Regions from separate parts of the Homo sapiens genome. Here region 1 is linked to region 2. A link means that fine-mapping ties the variant in region 2 to the expression of a gene that starts in the linked region. Tissue or cell type: whole blood. Region 2 holds a variant in brackets; the other region holds the start of a gene. All regions are shown on one strand. Distances are between the middles of the regions.

Evidence for each region. PIP is the estimated chance that this variant, and not a neighbour inherited with it, causes the effect.
Region 1: MTMR3 starts here. The variant in region 2 is fine-mapped to the expression of MTMR3 in whole blood (TOPMed, PIP above 0.99).

The regions. Positions count from the first base shown.
Region 1 is chr22:29,880,987-29,885,986 of GRCh38, reverse strand. MTMR3 (myotubularin related protein 3) reads right to left here and starts at 2,813. Exons shown (of 20, transcript NM_021090.4): 1 at 2,628-2,813. RefSeq lists silencers at 2,271-2,770, 2,831-3,000 and an enhancer at 2,713-3,007.
Region 2 is chr22:29,966,631-29,971,891 of GRCh38, reverse strand. MTMR3 (myotubularin related protein 3) reads right to left here. Exons shown (of 20, transcript NM_021090.4): 3 at 830-916. The coding sequence starts at 832. Among named protein-coding and RNA genes, the nearest start is that of MIR6818, 38 kb to the left of the region's middle. The variant C/T (reference allele first, on the strand shown) is at 2,101.

The DNA of each region.
Region 1 (5,000 bases), 86 kb after region 2:
AATACTACTCTATGATTTGACAGGATATTTACCAAAGCCCTTCACTACTCTACACAATTGTAACAACATTTTCTTCCACCTCTTCCAAACTTGTAAGAACCTTCACCACACCCCCCTCTAAAACACGAATACTTCCTTTGGTAACAGCATTCCACTTTACTGAAGAAGGTGTGAACGTGTTAACTAGAACTACAGCAGATTTTTAAACTGACTTTACCACTCCTCATGGCCTGCGGCAAATCTCAAGAACTTTTCACAATACATAGTAACCCTTCCTGGTTCACAACCCGGGTCTCAAATGATTGCTAACACACCCATCCTACCCTCCACTAGAAATCTGAGTCAGATGGTTTAGGAGCAACCATAATGGTGGGAAGCATCTTCAGTGGACCCCTTTATGAGCCAGAAGCCGACTTACTCCCTCTCCTTCTCTGTTTATTTCCTCTGGATCCTTCAATATATCTCTGGATACAGTATATCTCCAATTAATCAGCATCTAATTTTATCAAGTGTGTTCCTAATAACTTGTTTGCAAATTAACTTTTGGCAACAAATCTGTTTCCCCTACATAAATCCATTATATTTTAAGAGATGCTCAATTTGCATCTCTTTAAGTTTCTCATGCTTCCCCTTCTCCACCTCTTAAATTCTTAAAGATCTATAAACAAAAGCACCCTGAGAAGTCATAATTAATGGGACTTCTTTGGAATACCCAACCTAAAGCAAAAGTTCACATGCCTTGCTGACCAGAATCATTCACGGAGCTTTGTAAGGACAGATCCCCAGGCTCTATCCTCAGAGATTTTAATTCACCAGGTCCTGCATGAGTTCGAGGAATTTAGGTAGTCCATAATATTTCTAATGACCAGCCTTAAACTAGACAACCACTGAAGAACCTGGCCTATGAGCTGAGAAACTCAGGGTTTTTTATGGCTGGTCATTAACGACAAGCGGGGCTGTACCACTGTGCTGGTCACTTGAAGTTCTCTGAGTCACCTGAAAATGAGGGAGTAATTGGAGCCAAAAGAGGTATTCATAGGCAGCCAATCTAAAATTCTAGAATCCTCCAAATTTAATTTAATATCACATACTATACTGGGTTTACTCAAAACAGTGTCATTCTGGCTGGCGGCAGTGGCTCACGCCTATAATCCCAACACTTTCGAAGGCCAACGCAAGCGGATCACTTGAGGTCAAGAGTTCCAGGCCAGCCTGGCCAACATGGTGAAATCCCCGTCTCTACTAAAAATACAAAAATTAGCCAGCCGTGGTGGCGCACACTTGTAATCCCAGCTACTTGGGAGGCTGAGGTGGGAGGATTGCTAGAACCTGGCAGGCGGAGGTTGCAGTGAGCAGAGATCGCACTACTGCACTCCGGCCTGGGCGGGAGAGAGAGATTCTGTCTTAAAAAAAAAAAAAAAAAAAAAAAAAAAAAGTGTCATTCTGTAAGCTCTTCTAGCCTACCCAAGTCATAGGCCCTATAAAGGGAAGACTTTCTGCATGCCATCAATGTCTCCTGTCCTACTGAACAGCCCTGAATCTGAAAGGGGAAGGTCCCCACCACCTCTCCATGGACAAATCACAAACATTTCACATTGAAAAAAATAATAATAATCTCCTGTAATTCAACCCAGGCCTCTTATGGCATTACCATTCACATATGAGAAAGTTGAACCTTAACTAGAAAAGTATATGGTTTTGGGGTTTTGTTTTGTTTTGTTTTGTTTGTTTGGGTTGTGGAAAAATAGATGTCAGAATCAAGATACTACAACAGTAAGAATTTAGGCCTGGGTCTGGAAAGGACATTTGAACATCAATATGTAATAGCAGTCCATGTCCAAAACTCACAAGTGAGATTATCAAATTCCAGGGGAGTCTATTAATGTGGCCAAAAAATCTACCCCATAATTTTGACATAAGTTTTCCAGTCCAAAATACAACCTACAGTATCATCTTATGGGTCCGGAAATGCCATACATCAAGCAAAATTACTACCGGAGAAATAACACTGTAATCATTTGCGGAGCAGTCTGACCAGGGTTCCCTCAGTTACGCCAACCGCCCCCAATCATCCTACCCACCTAAGTACTACCAGGTCAGGGGGATGCCCTGCTGCACGATCGGGCGGTCACTCCTCCTTTCCACAAGGCCCAGGCCCGCACCGTTCGCCCCGGGGCTCCCATGGCCCCTGACCTCCAGTATCCGGCAACGATGGACCGCCACAGACCCGGCAGGGGGCGAAGGGCGCACACCCACCTCCCGGGAGTTCGTGGGAATAACTCCGGGCGCTCCGAGGGTACGTCCCACACCCAGAGCCGCACGGGCCCATCCCCGCCAGGTCTGGGAAGGCAGCCCGAGCCCGGGACCCCGCCTCCCCCGCATCTAGGGTCCGGGCCGAGCTCGGCCGCCGAGCTCCCATTCCCACTCCCACACCCAGCGCCTCCCCCTGGCGGCGACAGCCGCCGGGGACGCCCCTCCCCGGGCCCCGCACGCAGTCCCCAGCCCTCCCAGGGCGCTGCCTCCTCAGAGGGTGACAGCCGCCTGGCCAGGGCCGGGGCCGAGGCCGGCCCCTCCTCCAGCTCTTCCTCACCCGCCGAGGAGACGGAGGACGGGGATGGGGTTCTTACCGGGCAGCAGGACATGGCGAGGCCCTCCACGGCACAGTCTCCCCCTCCGCCACCCCACCAGGCTCCCTGCCAGGGCCGGCGCTGGGCAGCGCCTGAGCCGCTGGGACGTCTCGTCCGGCTGCTACTCCGCCGCCGCCGCCGCCTTCTCACAACCACAACAACATGGCGGCAGCGGCCACACAGAGCGCGCTCCCGACGCCGAGCCGGGCGACGAGCGAGGACGCGCGCGCACGCTCGGGCGCTGAGCCCGGTGTCCGGGAAAGGGGGCGGGTCTCCGCCGGTTGGACGGGGGCGGGGCCTGGACAGGTGGTCACGCCCCAGGAGATGGGCGGGGCTGCAGCTGGGGAGAGGCTCGCGAAAAAGCCCAGCGGAGCAAGAATGGCTAGACAGATGGGAAATGGGTGGAGGAAAAGAGATGACAAAAAAAAATCTGGAAGAAAACCAAAGGTGGTCCTACAGATTTTTAGGAGGCGTCTTTTCCAAGCTCTGTAACCCTGGGCAAGACATGGCTCACTCTACTTACCAGAAAAATAGAACAATAGTGGTATCTTCCACCTGCAATTGTGGTCAGGATAAAACCAGTTTAATATAATGCAAGTAAATATAGTGTTTTAGAAGTTGTATTCAGAATACAATTTCTTTTCTTTTCTTTTCTTTTTTTTTTTTTTTTTTTTTTTTTTGAGACAGAGTCTGGCTCTGTCGCCCAGGCTGGAGTGCAGTGGCATCTCGGCTCACTGCAACCTCTGCCTCCCGGGCTCAAGCGATCCTCACACCTCAGCCTCCTGAGTAGCTGAGACTACAGACTCACAACATCATGCCCGGCTAAATTTTGTATTTTTTGTAGAGATGAGGTTTCTGCCATTTTGTCCAGGCTGATCTCAAACTCCTGGGCTGAAGCAATCCACCCACCTCGGCCTCCCAAAGCGCTGGGATTACAGGCATGAACCACCGCATCCGGTCCAGAATACAATTTCAAACTGATTCAACTTCAGCTCCTAATCAAAAGCTCAGCGGGAAGAAGTGAGTTTTCAAACAAAGTAAAAAACAACTCCCCCAAAAAATTGTAACCTACCCACACTAGCCTGCAGAATTCCACAAACCAGGATTGCATTACCGTAGGCCCTAACAGATTCACCTCCTCTGAGTTGCCTTTTAACATTCTACCCTTGACTTTTCTGGAAACTGGGAGAACTAGTCAAATGAAATCTATTCCTGCGTCTGTTGTAAAGTTTTTCCACAGCACTTTCTGAAATTTATTTTCAATGTTTACTGTCATTTTACTCCACTAAAATGTAAAAGCTACTTGAAGATAAGGATCTTGTCTTGTTCGTCACTGTTTCCCCAGCACCTAGAACTGTGCAGGTTAAGTAGTAGGCAGTCGAATTTCTTGATTAACTAACAGCTGGCTGGGCGCGGGGGCTCACGCCTGTAATCCCAGCACTTTGGGAGGCCAAGGTGAGTGGATCACCTGAACTCAGGTGTTCGATACCAGCCTGGCCAACTTGGTGAAACCCCGGATCTACTAAAAATACAAAAGTTAGCTGGGCATGGTGGCGGGCGCCTGTAATCCCAGCTACTTGGGAGGCTGAGGCAGGAGAATAACTTGAACCCGGGAGGCGGAGGTTGCAGTGAGCTGAGACTGCGCCACCGCACTCCAGCCTGGGCGACAGAGCAAGACTCCGTCTCAAAAAAACGAAACTAAACTAACAGCTAACATTTATTCATACAACTCATCTAATTGAATCTTCACAACTTTAATAGGTAGATGCCATTATCTCCATATTACAGATGAAGAAAGTGAAGCACAGAATAAATTGCGTGTATTAAAACAAAATTCAAACCCAGCAGACAAAAAAAAAAAAAAAATACTGTGCTGTCTTACCCACCAGGCTGTACTGCCCAGTGCATGGACACAGTAGCCTGAAATAAAATCTCAAGTAAGAAATTACTTTAGGCCGGGCGCAGTGGCTCATGCCTGAAATCCCAGCACTTTAGGAGGCCGAGGCAGGTGGATTGCTTGAGCTCAGGAGTTCGAGACCAGCCTAGGCAACATGGCGAAATCCCATCTCTACAAAAAATACCAAAAAACTGGCCAGGCGTGGTGGTGCACGCCTGTAGTCCCAGCTATTTGAGAGGCTGAGGTGGGAGAATGGCTTGAGCCTGGGAGGCAGAGGTTGCAGTGAGCCCTGATTGTGCCACTGCACTCCAATCTGGGTGTCAGAGAGAGAAAAAAGAAAGAACGAAATAAATTACTTTAGAGTTAAAAGCTTGGAAAGCCCTTGCTTTACTACCAGAAAAACCGGTGTGCTTCCTGCTTTTTGATAACTGTTACGCATCTGATTGTGTCTCTCTTTTCACTCTGGCTTCCAGAAA
Region 2 (5,261 bases):
TAGGAAACATCACAAGGTAGAAGAAGGACAATATTACAGAGGACCATTTCTTTTTTAAGCCTTGAAGCACTGTTTACATTTCCTCAGGATTGATGAAAATGTGGCTGGCTTGTTGCTCCATCTTCTCTGCTTGAGCTGGGCCCGAAATGGCCCGTAAGTCATTAAATTGTCCATTAAATTCTCTTTCTGGTTAAAGATACAGGAGGGGGTGTGCAGGGCTGCTCCACCTACTATGGGATCAAAATACTGCCTTAAAGAGACAAAACAGGGAAGGTAGGGAATTGCTTCTATAAATTCATAAAGCATATATACTATGTGAAGTAATACATATGTTAATCAGCTTGATTTAGCCATTCCACAAGGTATATATGTATTTCAAAACATTATGCTGTACACAATATATATGTAATTTGTCAATTTAAAAAAATTTTTAAGTAAATATGCAGATTACCATCTTACAATTTGTCTACACACAAACACACACACACAGTTTTCACTACACGCTACTTCCTAGAAAAGGAATTAAAAACCTGGAGTCCGAGAACTGTATGTTTTAGTCTTGATTCCATTTACTTGCTGACTGAAAAATAAGAGACAACATCTAGCTCACAGGATTAAAGTTAACAGAAATGAAACTGCTCTGTATATTGGAGTACTCTATTACTACTAAGTAAACAAGAAAAGAAAAGACACAAGAGATCTGGGAAAGAAAAAGAAATAATTTCTTACAAAAACAAAAATGGGTAAGTATGAATTTATTAGTGTTCACTTAATTGTCAGGACACAGGGTTTTTTGTTTTTTTTTTTACTCTTATTTCCTTGTACTTACCATGACAAGAGGCCCAGATTAGGAGGAGAAATCCCCGTCCCTTCTTCAGTGTCCAACAAGGCTCTCTTCTTTCCCTTATGGTGAAGTCTGGGGGTGGGGGGGAAGAGGGGGAAGAAGAAAAAAAAAAGAGGAGGGGAGGCAAAATTGGCAATAGTTTTTCCCCTAATCGGCCATATCCTCACAAAGGTATTGTATATACACAGGCCTAAGAAGCTGATCAGAGTCAGCCAAGAAAAAGTTGATTATCACCCAGCCAATTCCCACTAGTCAAATCCCAATTTGACAGTTCCTTTGTAAAACTCCTGTTAGTCTTAACCTGTTTCTGCAAAAACAGTATCAAAGGCTAACATTCCTAATGTTCGTAGTAAAACAAAAAATATCATAAAACTTGGATGAATAAAGCAACAATTAAAATCAACCTACAGGCCAGGCAAGGTGGCTTAATGCCTATAATCCCAGCACTTTCGAAGGCTGAGGCAGATAGCCTGAGCTCAGAAGTTTGAGACCAGCCTGGGCAACAGAGTGAAACTCTGTCTCAAAAAAAAAAAAAAAAAAAAAAAAAAAAGCTGGTCATGGCAGCACATGCCTGTAGTCCCAGTTACTCAGGAGGATGAGGTGGGAGGATCAACTGAGCCTGGAAGGTTGGGGCTGTAGTATGCTGTGATTACACCACTGCACTCTAGTCTGGGCAACAGAGCAAGACTCTGTCTCAAAAAAATAAATAACATCAACCTGCAAATGCAAAATCATTATTCTTGTAGTATTTTAGGATGTTTTTGTGGTTATCTCTAAATTCAAAATGGATCCCCCATCTGAGGAAACCAAACTGACTTACGAGCAAAATAGGAAAAATAAATTTGCCTTATTACCCAAATATTCTATGCTCTTCTAAAAACTTACAATCTGTACTAATACCTTTACCTGGTTTTATAAGAACAAAAAAGGGGGAAAGAATATCCAACTAGAAACCCAAAAATAGGCTTATACAAAGAGTAAGTAAGTTGCTCTTTTCTTTGAACAGTCTCATGCAAAACCAACATTTCTAGTTTGCTAAGCTTCTGTAACACAGGATATTTCAGGGAGTCTGGGCTTCAATGTGCAGCATAAAACTCTTTTAAGGGCAATGTAAGCAAGGGAACAAGAGAACATAAAAGCAGTAGCAAGGCCCAGATTGTGTTGAGGCATTTTGAGCAGAGGAATGGTAGGAGATGACTTACTCTAAAGAATCATTTTGGCCGGGTGTGGTGGCTCACGCCTGTAATCCCAGCATT[C/T]TGGGAGGCCAAGGCAGGCAGATCACGAGGTCAGGAGTTCGAGACCAGCCTGGCCAACATAGTGAAACCCCATCTCTACTAAAAATACAAAAAATTAGCAGGGCATGGGGGTGTGTGCCTGTAGTCCCAGCTACTCGGGAGGCTAAGACAGGAGAATAACGTGAACCTGGGAGGCAGAGGTTGCAGTGAGCCGAGATCACGCCATTGCACATCCAGCCCAGGTGACAGTGTGAGACTCAGTCTCAAAAAAAAACCAAAAAAACAAAAAAAAGAATCATTTTGGCTGTTGGGTAGAGAACAGTCAAGGCTACTGGGGGTAAGGGGCAAAAGAAGACCAATTAGAAAGCGTCATTAACCCCAGCAAGAGACAATATAGCAATGAAAAGGTAGTAGAGATAGAAGTGGTGGGATGTTACTGATTCTGGATATACTTTGAAAATACTGCCCATAGGATTTGAGTGGATTAATTAAATAGGATAGAAAAAGAGAAGTCAAGCTTTTTGTGTCAGCAACCGGAAGCAAGGATTTTCTATTTATTGATGAAGAGCATTGTAAGAAAAATCTATTCTTCTCGTGCCATGCAGAGACAGCTCAACGGACAAGGAACAAGAAATTAAAGTTTCCATTTTAGACACATTATGTTTGAAAACCTATCACATATCCAAACAAAGATGCCAAGTAAAGTGCTAGTTAAACCAGACTAGAGATCAAGAAGATGGAGCCTAGAGATATAAACATAAATGTGGGAGACATCAGTGTGTGAATGGCATTAAAGCCAAATGCAGGAGCAAGTATAAATGGAGAGGCTAAGATGACTAAGGACAGGGGTTTTGGGTGCACCATTTTTTAGAGGCTGGAAGGATGAGGAAGAACCTTATGGTTCAGTAACAGACCAAGTTGGAGTCATCATTCTTAACCACTCTTCAAACCAAGCCAAACTTTTGTGATTTGGCCTAGCTCAAGAACTGAAACTAATGTAAAATTATCTCATTTATTCATTCTTTTCAATAAATATTTATTCAATATTTTCTACACTCCATGCACTGTTGTAGACTTTGGGGACACCACTGTGAACAGAAATTCATGGAACTTGATTTTATTGTTGGTCTTTCTCATTAGAAACAAAGAAACAGATAACTAATGTTAAGCAGTAGGCAACTGCTGCAAAGAAAATTAAGCAGAGTTTGGTGATGGTGTAACAGAAATGCTACTTTAGATAGGAAGGTAAAGATGTGCAAAAAGGCACTTATTGGAATTAAAAAGGAGAAGGGCAAAGGCAGAGAAAATTTGAGGGTATGAACTTATTAAAAGAACGGGATACTGTTATAAAGAACCTTTTCAAAAAAGAAACATACTGAATTACTTTTAAAAAACTGTCCTAATATTACACAAAAGATATTTGTGTTTTAGAATAAAATTTCTAAAGATAGCATCATTGACACATTCAAACTGCTGTATCTTAAACAATTTAAATGGAAGTGAATTTAATGCATTTTGCAAAACTATTAAATAACAAAATATAACTCCAGTGAGGAAGATACTAATGTCAGATGTAGATGGAATGTGAAGGTGAAACCCCCATACACTGCCGGCAGGAATGTAAAGTGGTACAACCTCTGAGGAAAAGTGTGGCAGTTCCCAAAAAAGTTTAGAGTCATCATATGTCCCATCAGTTCCACTCCTGGGTATATACCTAAGAGAACTGACAAGGTATGTCCACATAAAAACTTCTACACAAATTTTCGTAACAGCATTATTCATGATGGCCAAAAGTGCAAACAACCCAAATATGCATCAATCAATGAATGGACAAACAAAATGTGAATGGATAAACAAACAAAAAATACACACACACACACACACACACACACACAGTATATATAATGGAGTTATCCAGCAATAAAATGGAATAAAATACTGATACATGACACACATAGATGAAAACATTATGCTAAATGAGAGAACCTGGGGCACAAAAGGCCATATATTGTGTGATTCCATTTGTATGAGATGTCCAGAAAAGGTAAATCCACAGAGACAGAAAGTAGATTAGTGGTTGCCAGGAGCCAGGTTGAGGGAAGAATAGGGAGTGACTGCTAATGGGTACAAGGTACCTTTGCAGGGTGATGAAATGTTTGGAATTAGGTAATGGTAATGGTTCTACAGCTTTATGACTATACTAAAAACCACTGAATTGTATACTTTAAAAGGGTGGATTTTATGTGATATGACTTATAGCTCAAAAAAAAAAAAATACAGAAGCCATGTGCAGTGGCTCACTCTTATAATCCTAGCAATTTGGGAGGCCAGGACAGGAAGACAGCTTGAGCCCCAGAGTTCAACGCCAGCCTGGGCAACATAGCAAGACTGTCTCTACTGAAAAAAAAAAAAAATTAGGTGGTTGTGCACACCTGTAGTCCTAGCCACTTGGGAGGCTGATGTGGAAGGATCCCTTGAGCTCAGGAGTTCAAGGCTGCAGTGAGCTTATGCTACTGCACTCCAGCCTGAGTGACAGAGCAAGACCTTGTCTCTAAAAAACATGCGCGCGCGCGCGCATGCACACACACACACACACACACACACACACACACACACACAACAGAGGTGAAGAGTAACAATATAATCAAACTCTTCATAAGATAAAAATAAACGCTGCAAAAAAGTTACAGTATCAACCCAGCAGCAATGAGCATTCTAAGCCCCTAGACTGTGGTCCCTAAAGACTAATTCCCACTTCAAAAGAAGATGGGGCACCTGAAAGAAAATATAACCAATTCCAGGTCTAGAAAAGAAAATGTACAATTTGATTCTGAAACATCATATTAAACTGGAATGTAAGAAACATATAAAAGACTACTGAGGGTAAGTCAGAAATAATTGGGAGTCAATTTGAAGAGACTCACTAGCTAAAAATGAAATAATTTGAGCAAAATGGTTAAATGCAATGGATTGGGTTTCAGGATGTTTAAATATGAGTTCATAAAGAAACATTCTCTCTCTCACACACACACAGAGACAGACACACACACACACACACACACACACACACACACACACACACACACGCACACCCCTACAGGTCACCAGTGGAAGATGTTAAGGAACTAACCTTTTATTTTTGAAAACTAGCAAGTAAGGGGAAAGAATCAAGTATCTATCCC